Linked DNA regions of Homo sapiens. The protein of the gene in region 1 interacts with the protein of each later gene in a biochemical or structural test. Each region holds a gene or a part of one and is shown on either strand. Other genes may lie near its edges.

Evidence for each region. The genes of interacting proteins can lie anywhere in the genome.
Region 2: the proteins of BIRC3 (region 1) and PACS2 form a complex in vitro, tested with the Homo sapiens proteins (one study listed by BioGRID).
Region 3: of the proteins of BIRC3 (region 1) and USP19, one has a biochemical effect on the other in vitro, tested with the Homo sapiens proteins (one study listed by BioGRID).

What each region holds. Positions count from the first base shown.
Region 1 is NC_000011.10:102,337,194-102,339,903, reverse strand, and holds the end of BIRC3 (baculoviral IAP repeat-containing protein 3), read right to left. Parts: 3' UTR 501-2,710; downstream 1-500. UniProt on the Homo sapiens protein: Multi-functional protein which regulates not only caspases and apoptosis, but also modulates inflammatory signaling and immunity, mitogenic kinase signaling and cell proliferation, as well as cell invasion and metastasis.
Region 2 is NC_000014.9:105,317,748-105,321,247, reverse strand, and holds part of PACS2 (phosphofurin acidic cluster sorting protein 2), read right to left. Parts: intron 1-3,500. UniProt on the Homo sapiens protein: Multifunctional sorting protein that controls the endoplasmic reticulum (ER)-mitochondria communication, including the apposition of mitochondria with the ER and ER homeostasis.
Region 3 is NC_000003.12:49,114,324-49,117,823, forward strand, and holds part of USP19 (ubiquitin carboxyl-terminal hydrolase 19), read right to left. Parts: coding exon 3,334-3,500; intron 3,248-3,333; coding exon 3,114-3,247; intron 3,039-3,113; coding exon 2,736-3,038; intron 2,621-2,735; coding exon 2,404-2,620; coding exon of another isoform or gene 2,398-2,403; intron 2,285-2,397; coding exon 2,128-2,284; intron 2,029-2,127; coding exon 1,957-2,028; intron 1,840-1,956; coding exon 1,724-1,839; intron 1,622-1,723; coding exon 1,401-1,621; intron 1,317-1,400; coding exon 1,121-1,316; intron 1,039-1,120; coding exon 905-1,038; intron 795-904; coding exon 636-794; intron 551-635; coding exon 440-550; intron 1-439. UniProt on the Homo sapiens protein: Deubiquitinating enzyme that regulates the degradation of various proteins by removing ubiquitin moieties, thereby preventing their proteasomal degradation. Stabilizes RNF123, which promotes CDKN1B degradation and contributes to cell proliferation.

The sequences.
Region 1 (2,710 bases):
TATTTATTAAGACATGGTCTTACTATGTTGCCCAGACTGGTCTTGAGCTCCTAGACTCAAACGATCCACCTGCCTTGGCCTCCTAAAGTTCTGGGATTACAGGTGTGAACCACTGCATCTGGTCTTGAATTTTCTTAGTAACATACATAGTGTCTACTATGATGTGCAAGACAACAAAAGGAGGTGACATCTTCTCCAATAGGAGCTGAATATGGTTCAATCACATTGCCTGTGACCACAAAGGAACTTAATGGCTAATGGTATCAAGCGATATAAGGAAATTAAGAGAAAGGTTGGAATGGAAGCTATAATGAGCATGGCTGAAGTATGAAATTAAGCCTGCTGCAAAGTCCTGTATGATCACACTTAATATATTGAGGTTTAAACCCAATGACTGAAGACCACGTTGGCTGGTAGGTGGGGTTGGAGGCAATCAAATGGATTAATGCATGTCAAGCACCTGAAAACATCTGACATTTGGTCAGCAAATAGATCTACCATTATTATCTATGGTGATTTATTTTTTCCAAAACAAAATGTCAAAATAACACTTAGGGAAATAACATATTTGAATAAATGGGTTGGTTATAATAGCTATTTATTACCATAATGAGAAATGAACAAAAGTTTTACAGTGAGATGACAAAGTTCAAATATTATCTGTAGTATACAAGAACTAGATAAAAAAAAAAACACATGGTGCAAAAAGGGTGCCTACTATTTAAATACCCTATACCTGAGTTACAAATCACCTAAGCACAATTACAAATAATTCAGCCTAGCACCCATGCAGGACACTGGCTAGTACATGGGTAGCCAGCAGAGCCTCTTAGCAGAGGCAAAATCAATTGCATTTCAAGGAAATAAGTCTCCCAGCATCAGAATGCAGAGATGGATTCTTTCCTCCCCTCACTTGGTCCCTAATTGTTCTCTTTACAACACTAGCAGATGTTGGGGCTCAGAAAACCCAAAGTGAAGGCCTCAGAAGCAAAGTTTTTCTCTGATGTTATCCTGCCCTCCTGTCTCAGCCTCATTCTCCCTGAAGGCAAGCCACAGAAACTTGAATTCCTCTTCCCCAAGGTAGGTCATAGAAACTGGAACCATCTTTCCACAATGCCAGACTTACATCTTAAAGATAGTACTCTAATCTTTCCTCACCTAACTATGTAAGAGCTGGCCATAAATAAATTCTCTGACCTACCTTGCTTGATAGCAGGTTATAATATCCCCATCCCATACAGGCCCTGCCCTATATCCAGGAGGAAGGAATGCTGCACAGAGACCAAGAATAATCTGAACAGACAGGCCTTGCTGGGTCCCCAACCTGTGTCTATTCCCATTAGATCATATCCTTTTTTTCCAATCACTATTCTTCAGGGCTGTCCATTCATTATCAAACCTAAGCATAAAAATGCACAGTTTCCCCTGTAATTTTGGATCTTCATTACGAAGGCTCCCCGGTGATGTAAATCTGTGATTAAATAAATTTGTTAAGTTTTTCTCTTGTTAACCTGTCTTTTGTTATAGGATTGTCAGCTGTGACCCTTATGAAGGGGTCTTTCCCTTCTGCCCTTACAGAGCCATCTGCCCCTATACAGACATCTAGAACTGGTTTAGATGACTAGCCTTTGCCTGCCTTCCCCTGAGTATTCCCTATTACAGTCTTACTTCTGCTCTTGAAGACCTAATACCTCTATAAGAAGCAAAGGACAGAGTTATGACTCGGACGTGTTGAGTACCAATAACATAATGCAGAGGGGGACATTTTGTTGCACTGACAATATGAAACAGATTTATTTACCAGAACAACCTGTTGGTCCCAAGCATTGCTAACCAGTGTACTTTCTAAGTTTCAGAATTAATACCAAAGAGATAAGAATAAAACTCAGACCTTCTTCCAATAGGTGGGGCTGGCATGAGACTTCTTGAATGAATCAATAGAGAAGTGAATAAACAAACTTACTAAAGGGACTGTTTGATTCTTGTCTCAGGCATTCCATAATAGATTTTATGATGTGTTGACCCCGTGTTCTACAAGTGTCAATGAAGAAGCATCTTATGGGAAGGAGTATAAACTGTAGTTCAATATTTGAGAGGCTTTAAGAAGGTATGGAAAGAGTCTGGGAGTGACTAAACTATCCAATGTCATTGAAATAAAGCAATGAAGAATAAGAGTAATTTTTGTTGCTTTATTAAATTTTTTCTCACAGAATTCTTTATAAAAACACCATGTCCCTAAAATGTCATTCAACATATATGCACACCTTCGATGTATAGGACACTGATCAAAAAAGACAGAGAAATGTGTCCCTGGTGTTTTGTTTTTGTTCTGTTTGTTTTTAAAGGCAGGGTCTCAGTATGCTGCCCAGGATGGATTCAAACTCCTGGGCTCAAGTAATTCTCTTGCCTCAGCCTGGGACTACAGGCACATACCACCACACCTGGCTTCATGTTCCCGGTATTAGTACAATGCCAAAATATTTAAAATTCTTAAAGGTTAACTCAAATATCTTAAGTTTTACTTCACTTACAATTTCAATAATGCTGAAATTTTGATTGAATATTGTGTTTGTAGTGCTACCTCTTTTTCGTTCATAAGAACAAAAGCCTATCATTCTCTTAGTTTCTAAAAAATATATGTTCATATGGTTTAGATACATATATAAATATGTTACACAAAACAATGTTTTTTGAGTTGTAAATAAATAAA
Region 2 (3,500 bases), on another chromosome or scaffold:
ACCAAGCTTGATCTAATAGACAAACACTGCACCATCAACTGCCAAACACACATTCCTTTTAAGTATAAACAGAACGTGCATTAAAATTGACACACTGACCCAGAAAGCAGGTTCAAAAAAAAATGTTTTTGCAGTGGCGCCATCTGGGCTCACTGCAACCTCCGCCTCCCAAGTTCAAGTGATTCTCCTGCTTCAGCCTCCTGAGTAGCTGGAATTACAGGTGCGTGCCACCACGCCTGGCTAATTTTTGTATGTTTAGTAGAGATGGGATTTCACTACGTTGCCCAGGCTGGTCTCGAACTCCTAACCTCCGGTAATCCACCCACCTCAGCCTCCCAAAGTGCTGGGATTACAGGTGTGAACCACCAGGCCCGGCCAGTCAGGTTATTTTATAAGTGAATTATCCCAAACATTCAAGGAAGAAATGATTCCAATTTTACATAAGCTATACCACGATACAGCAAAAGAGGCAGTACTCATTTCATTTCACAAGGAAATCTTAGCGCCAAAATCTGCTAAGGACTACAGAAGAAAGGAAGCACATAGACCCCAGACACACATGCAGAAGTCCTAAACAAGATACTATCATCTAAACCCACCAATGTGGGCAGGTAGGGAGGCTCACACCTGGAGTCCCAGCTCTTTGAGAGGCCAAGGTGAGAGGATCACTTGAGGCCAGGAGTTGGAGACCAGCCTGAGCAACATAGTGAGACCCCATCTCTACAAAAAATTTAAAATTAGCCAGGCCAGTGGCATGCACCTGTAGTCTCAGCTACTCAGGAGGCTGAGGCAGGAGGATTGCTTGAGCCATGGTCACACCACTGCACTCCAGCCTAGGCAAAAGAGCAAGACCCTGTCTCAAAAAATAAATACATAAATAAATATATATCCACCAATTTTTAAAAAGGGTAATACAACATGCTTAAACTAGTATTTTTCCAGGAATAGGTTAATGTTAGAAAATCAATTTACGGCCAGGCATGGTGGCTCACGCCTGTAATCCCAGCACTTTGGGAGGCTGAGGTGGACGGATAACAAGGTCAGGAGATCGAGACCCTCCTGGCCAACACGGTGAAACCCCGTCTCTACTAAAAATACAAAAATTCGCTGGGCGTGGTGGTGCACACCTGTAGTCCCAGCTACTTGGGAGGCTGAGGCAGGGGAATTGCTTGAACCTGGGAGGCAGAGGTTGCAGTGAGCTGAGATCACGCCACTGCACTCCAGCCTGGTAACAGAGCGAGACTCTGTCTCAAAAAGAAAAGAAAAGAAATAAAATCAATTTATGTAATTTACCACAATAGTAATGAAAAGATAAAAATTATATAATCCTCTTAATGAAAGTACTTGATTATATTCAACATCCACTCATAATGATTTCTTTAAAAAGCCTTTGCAAGTCATGAATAGGATGAGACTTTTTAAGTGCATAAAGGCTATCCACAAAAAGTTGCAGCAAACATCGTCCTTAAAGGTAAAACACTGGAAACCTTCCTTAAGGTCAAGACAGAACACGGGTAATCCACGCAACCAACCATATTCAACACTGTACTATGACAACTGGCACAGTCAGGCAAGAGAAAGAAAGAAAAGTATGAGGATTGAAAAGAAACAACTTTGTCTTTTGCAAAAGACAAAACATACATTTTGAAAATACAAAATAATCTATAGATAAGTTACTAGGTTAAAAATAGTAAAATCACTGATTTCTTTGAAAAATCAACTGAATTTCTATATGTTAGCAACAAACATAATAAAAAGCTGACTTTTACTATGACTTCTAAAATACAAGCATCTAGGAATAAATGTAACAAAGGATATGCATGACAGCAGAATCTTGTAAAACTCTCAAAATACATTCAAGACCTAAGTAAATAGCTTGATCATGAATGAGAAGACTCAGTACCACACAAACGTCAATTCTCCCCAACCTGCTCTACAGAGTTAAAGAACTTCCAATTATAAACCAAATGTGGCTTTGTGTGAAACTTAAAAAGATAATTCTGGCTGGGCGTGGTGGCTCACGCCTGTAATCCCAGCACTTTCAGAGGCCAAGGCGGGCGGATCACGAGGTCAAGAGATCGAGACCATCCTGGCCAACATGGTGAAACCCTGTCTCTACTAAAAATACAGAAATTAGCTGGGCGTGGTGGTGCACGCCTGTAGTCCCAACTACTCAGGAGGCTGAGGCAGGAGAATTGCTTGAACCCGGGAAGTGGAGGTTGTAGTGAGCTGAGATCGTGCCACTGCACTCCAGCCTGGGCGACAGAGCTTCTCAAAAAAATAAAATAGGCAGGGCGTGGTGGCTCACGCCTGTAATCCCAACACTTTGGGAGGCTGAGGCGGGCGGATCACGAGGTCAGAAAATTGAGACCATCCTGGCTAACACGGTGAAACCCCATCTCTACTAAAAATATAAAAAAAATTAGCCGGGCGTGGTGGCGGGCGCCTGTAGTCCCAGCTACTCGGGAGGCTGAGGCAGGAGAATGGTGTGAACCCAGGAGGCGGAGCTTGCAGTGAGCCGAGACAGCACCACTGCACTCCAGCCTGGGTGACAGAGCGAGACTCCATCTCAAAATAAAATAAAATAAAATAAAAATAAATAAATAAATAAATAAAATAAAAATACAAAAATTAGCCGGGCATGCTGGCAGGCGCCTGTAGTCCTAGCTACTTGGGAGGCTGAGGCAGGAAAATCGAAACAGGGAGGCGGAGGTTGCAGTGAGCCGAGATTGCACCACTGCACTCCAGCCTGGTGACAGAGTGAGACTCTGTCTCAAAAAAACAAAACAAAACAAAAAAATTAGACAGACATGGTGGTGTACACCTGTAGTCCCAGCTGCTCAGGAAGCTGATGTGGGAGGACTGCTTGAGCCCAGGTTTTAGGGGTTACAATGAGCCATGATCAAGCCACTGCACCCCAGTCTGGGCCACAAAGTGAGGCTCTGTCTCTAAAAACCAAACAGATGGCCAGGCCCAGGGGCTCATACCTGTAATCTCAGCACTTCGGGAGGCCGAGGTGAGAGGATCACTTGAGCCCAGGAGTTCAAGACCAGTCTGGGCAACATAGGGAGACCCTGTCTCTGCAACAACAACAACAAAATACATAAATAAAAACAAATTAATAAACATCAACCGAAAAAACAATCAAGTGGGAAGGGCAAGGTACAAAGCAGCCCAGCCCTTGCTGAAGAGCAGGTGGGGGCGCTCAGGGACATGGGCACCAGGAGGACACTCTGGGAACCCAGGAGGCAGAGGCCACAGACAGGCACTGACGCATACCCCGTGGACCACCTAGGAGCACCGTGTGTAACAGTGCTGAGCCAAAAGCGTCGCAAGGAAACCCGGAGCACAGGCCTCCCCAACAACAGCCCAGCATGCCCAGTTCAAGCTCCCGGGGGCAGACTTCTCCGGCTGCCTCCCAGAAGGAGAACCGAAACGAGACCAGCACCCCAGCCTGGCAAACAGTCAATGTGCACACTCCACCAGGCTGACACGGGGAG
Region 3 (3,500 bases), on another chromosome or scaffold:
GTGGGAGATAAGATGCTCATGCTCAGAGAGCCCATTCCGGGGCTTCTGATGGCTCTCAGGGCCCCCACAGCCAACCAGCAAACTCTCAGGCTTCAGGACACTAGACAGGGCAGGAGGACCACCAGGAAATAACAATCCTTCTTTCTGGCACTCAAAGCCCTACTCAGCTTAGCCACTTTACGAATTGGCCTCACACTTGCACCCCATGTGCCCACAACCCTGCTACAACACCTTTGAGCTCTAACATCACTTTTCCCTCAGTCAGGAAGCCTACCCTGAGTGGGCTCTTCAGCCCAAATAGAATCCTAAGGCCTCCCTGCCAGCTTCTTTGCCCAAACCTTGCCCTGTAGCACCTTAAGATGCACATGCCTCTGAACCTAATGTGACCAGAATAGCTGAGCTGAACTAGGGGGTCTCTTTCCAGGGGAGCCCATCACACCTTGGCACACACAGGGCACACCAGCTTCGACTTGTACTGCCCCTGAAATAGGTCCACGATGAAAGAGTCATTCCTCATCTTGTGCCGCTGCCATGCTTCCTCAGCTACCACCTGAGAGGCAGAGTGGTGAGAACCAAAGAGTACCAGGGGCTGGGATGCTCATGAGACATGCCCACCCTCTGTCCCTAACCCTGACCTCATCGGGCCGCCCATCTGAATCCACGGTCTCTGTGTAGGGCTTGTTCTGAATGCGATTCAGGTCCTCGTGCAGCCCATCCAGCAGGAAAGCCATGAACTCCTGGGCATCATGCTGTGCATAGCCTGTGAACTGGCTGGCCTTACTCGCCACAATGGCCTGGATACAGGAGCCAAGGTGTGAACATGAAGCCCTAGCACCCACTGCACACCCAGCTGGCTGGCCCTCCCCGCCCCCTCCAGCCAAGGGTGACAGTGGTCACAGATCACCTTCAACTTGGAAGGCTGGAAGGCATGGTGGGTGCCCTTCCACAGCGCCCGAAGCAGCACGGCAAAGCCAATGGCCAGACGCCCACCAGTCCCTAGTGGGTTGTTGTAGTTGATCTCAGCCTCAAAGGAGCGGTCTAGGAATAGTAGCCGAGCAAAGGTGTGAGGAACAAAGGCACTCTCTCTGCCCATAACCCAGGCTCCAGGCCCTGCCCTCACCATGGAAGAAGTCCCGGAGTTCCCGAGTGTTGGACAGAGACTGAATGACGCTGTTCATGAAGCAGGTGTTGCCTAAATTGACAAGGCCAGTGAAGCCTGGCAGACACACCTTCTTCTCTTCCTCTTCCTCCTCCTCCACGCTGTCTCCACTAACTGGGCTGTGGGGCATGGGAGGCACCATGCATGTAGGCTTGGGCTGCAGGAGCAAAGACGACATGAGAGAACAGCCCCAAGACTCTCCAGCCTCCATTCTTCGTCCTTCCCACCCCAGAATTCTCACCGAGGCCAGGTGTGTCTCTGGCTTTGGGGTTACATGCTCCATGGGTGTGCGGGTTGCCACACTGTCTAGCCCTGTGTCCTCAGATCGTGCCTTGGATTTATCCTTCTCCACAGCCCGGGCCTCCTCCTGGCCTGTCAGGGGGTGGGGAGCACCTCCTGGTGGGGTTGAATCCAGAGGGGTTGGACCTGTCGGCACGGCAACCTTTGCACCACCCACTGCACCTTAAAAAGGGGGAATGAGAGGGCTGGTGGTTAGCAGCATGTGACAGGGGTTTGGGTCCTGGTCACGTGGAACTGGGCAATGAAGGGAGCTCGTGTGCAGACCTCGTGCAGCCGGGGCCTCCAGGCCCCCCCAGCGCTGACTCTGCCTCTTACGAAGGCAGATGTCGATGCGAGAAGCCGTGAAACAGAAGGTGCACTGCTCTGGCTCAATCAGATTCCTGTGGGAAAAGGCTGAACTCAGGGACTTAGGAGGAATGAGCATCAGGATAGATGAGCCAGGGAGATGGAGCCCACGGGGTAGGACAGGCACAGTGGTGGGGCCGGGCACCACCCACCTGAGCTTCACCTGCCAACGGAAGGTGGTGTGGGGCCCACAGCCCGGGTGCAGCCTCAGGAAGTTTCCATCCCTGCAGAGGCACAGCAGGATAGGAGGAAGGACAAGAGGAAGAGCATGAGACATACTGTCCCACCTGAGGCATTGTTTGCCCCATCATCTACCCACCCACCTGGTCTGGAAGATGAGCGTGAAGTCCTGCTCACGGAAAAGTACTCTTGAGGTGTCCCTGCAGATCTCCTTCACGTACACGTGCACCACCACTGAATCCGGGCCCTTCTCATACGAGTCATTCTTGACAAACGCCAGGTTCACCATCGACTCGGGCTCTATATTGAGACCATGGCTCAGCCCCAACCAGGACAGGTTCCAGCCTATTGCTACTCTCTATCCACCTACAAACTTTGCAACCCAACCTAGGGCTCTGCCTGCCCACCCCCACCTTTACCATCCACCAAGGTTGCAGCATCTGCTGCCACTGCCATCTCCTCCTTGGCACAGTCATCTTTCCCAGGGTTTCTGCTCCGGACCATGGCTGGAGAGACTGGGTCATTCCCGGGAGGCACTGCTTTCTCTCCTGCCAAAGGGGCTAAATTCTCCTCTGAGCCCAGGAGGCAGGTTTGGGAGTTCAGCGGTGGTATGCAAAGCTGTTCATCAGCCTCAACCTATTAATGGCAAGATTGTGGAAAGAATCAGCCCTGGGTCTGCCAGGTGGCTCCCACTCCAGTGCACACCCTTTCCCCCCATCTCCTAACACCCAAACAGGTGCCCAGCTCTCACCTGGGTGGCTGGGTCAGCCACGAAGGGTGGGGCATCACCCCGGGGTCCAGGGTCATCCCTGGACCCGTCCCCCTCTGGCCCTCTGCAGAGATGCACAGCCCTCTTGGCGCTGGGCCCTGCCTGGGCCCCGGGGCCAGCCCCTGCGCCTACCTCACCACGGCCCTGGGCCCGCTTCTGGTTCCGGGCCTCCTGCTTAGCCCGGTGGGGCTCAGGGCCTGGCTCCAGGGCAATGGGAGACAGTTCCTGCCCATTCTCCTGGCACCGCAGCCCCGGCACCAGCTCCTGGGTCCCTAGAGGTTTCTTCTGCCAAAGATACAGCAGTCAGGCCCTGTCGACTACACTGGTATCCCTACCCAACCCTGTACTACTAGAACTCACCAGGAGGGAGGGCCACGTGAGCATAGGCACCTTTTTGGGCAGTGTCAGGTGCAGGAGACTGCCCTTGCGGGTTTGCACTTTAGCACAAGAGCTTTTTATCTCAGCATAGAAGACACCACCCCACTGCTGACCACCTGGGGACAGAGCAGGGTCCATGAGGTAGGATAGGAGATATCAGAAGATTCAAACATACTACTGTGCTCAGGGCAGATGGACACACCTGCAAACCGCACCACACAGTCTGTATCTGTGAAAGCAGCATCTACATCCTCCAGCTGCAGGGGACCTACTCCCACACGAAGCTTGACAATCACCTCTTCTGCACTCTGCCTCCAATCGAGCAACAACTCTGGAGTGGGAGTAGCCAAGAGATCATGAGGGTCTTCA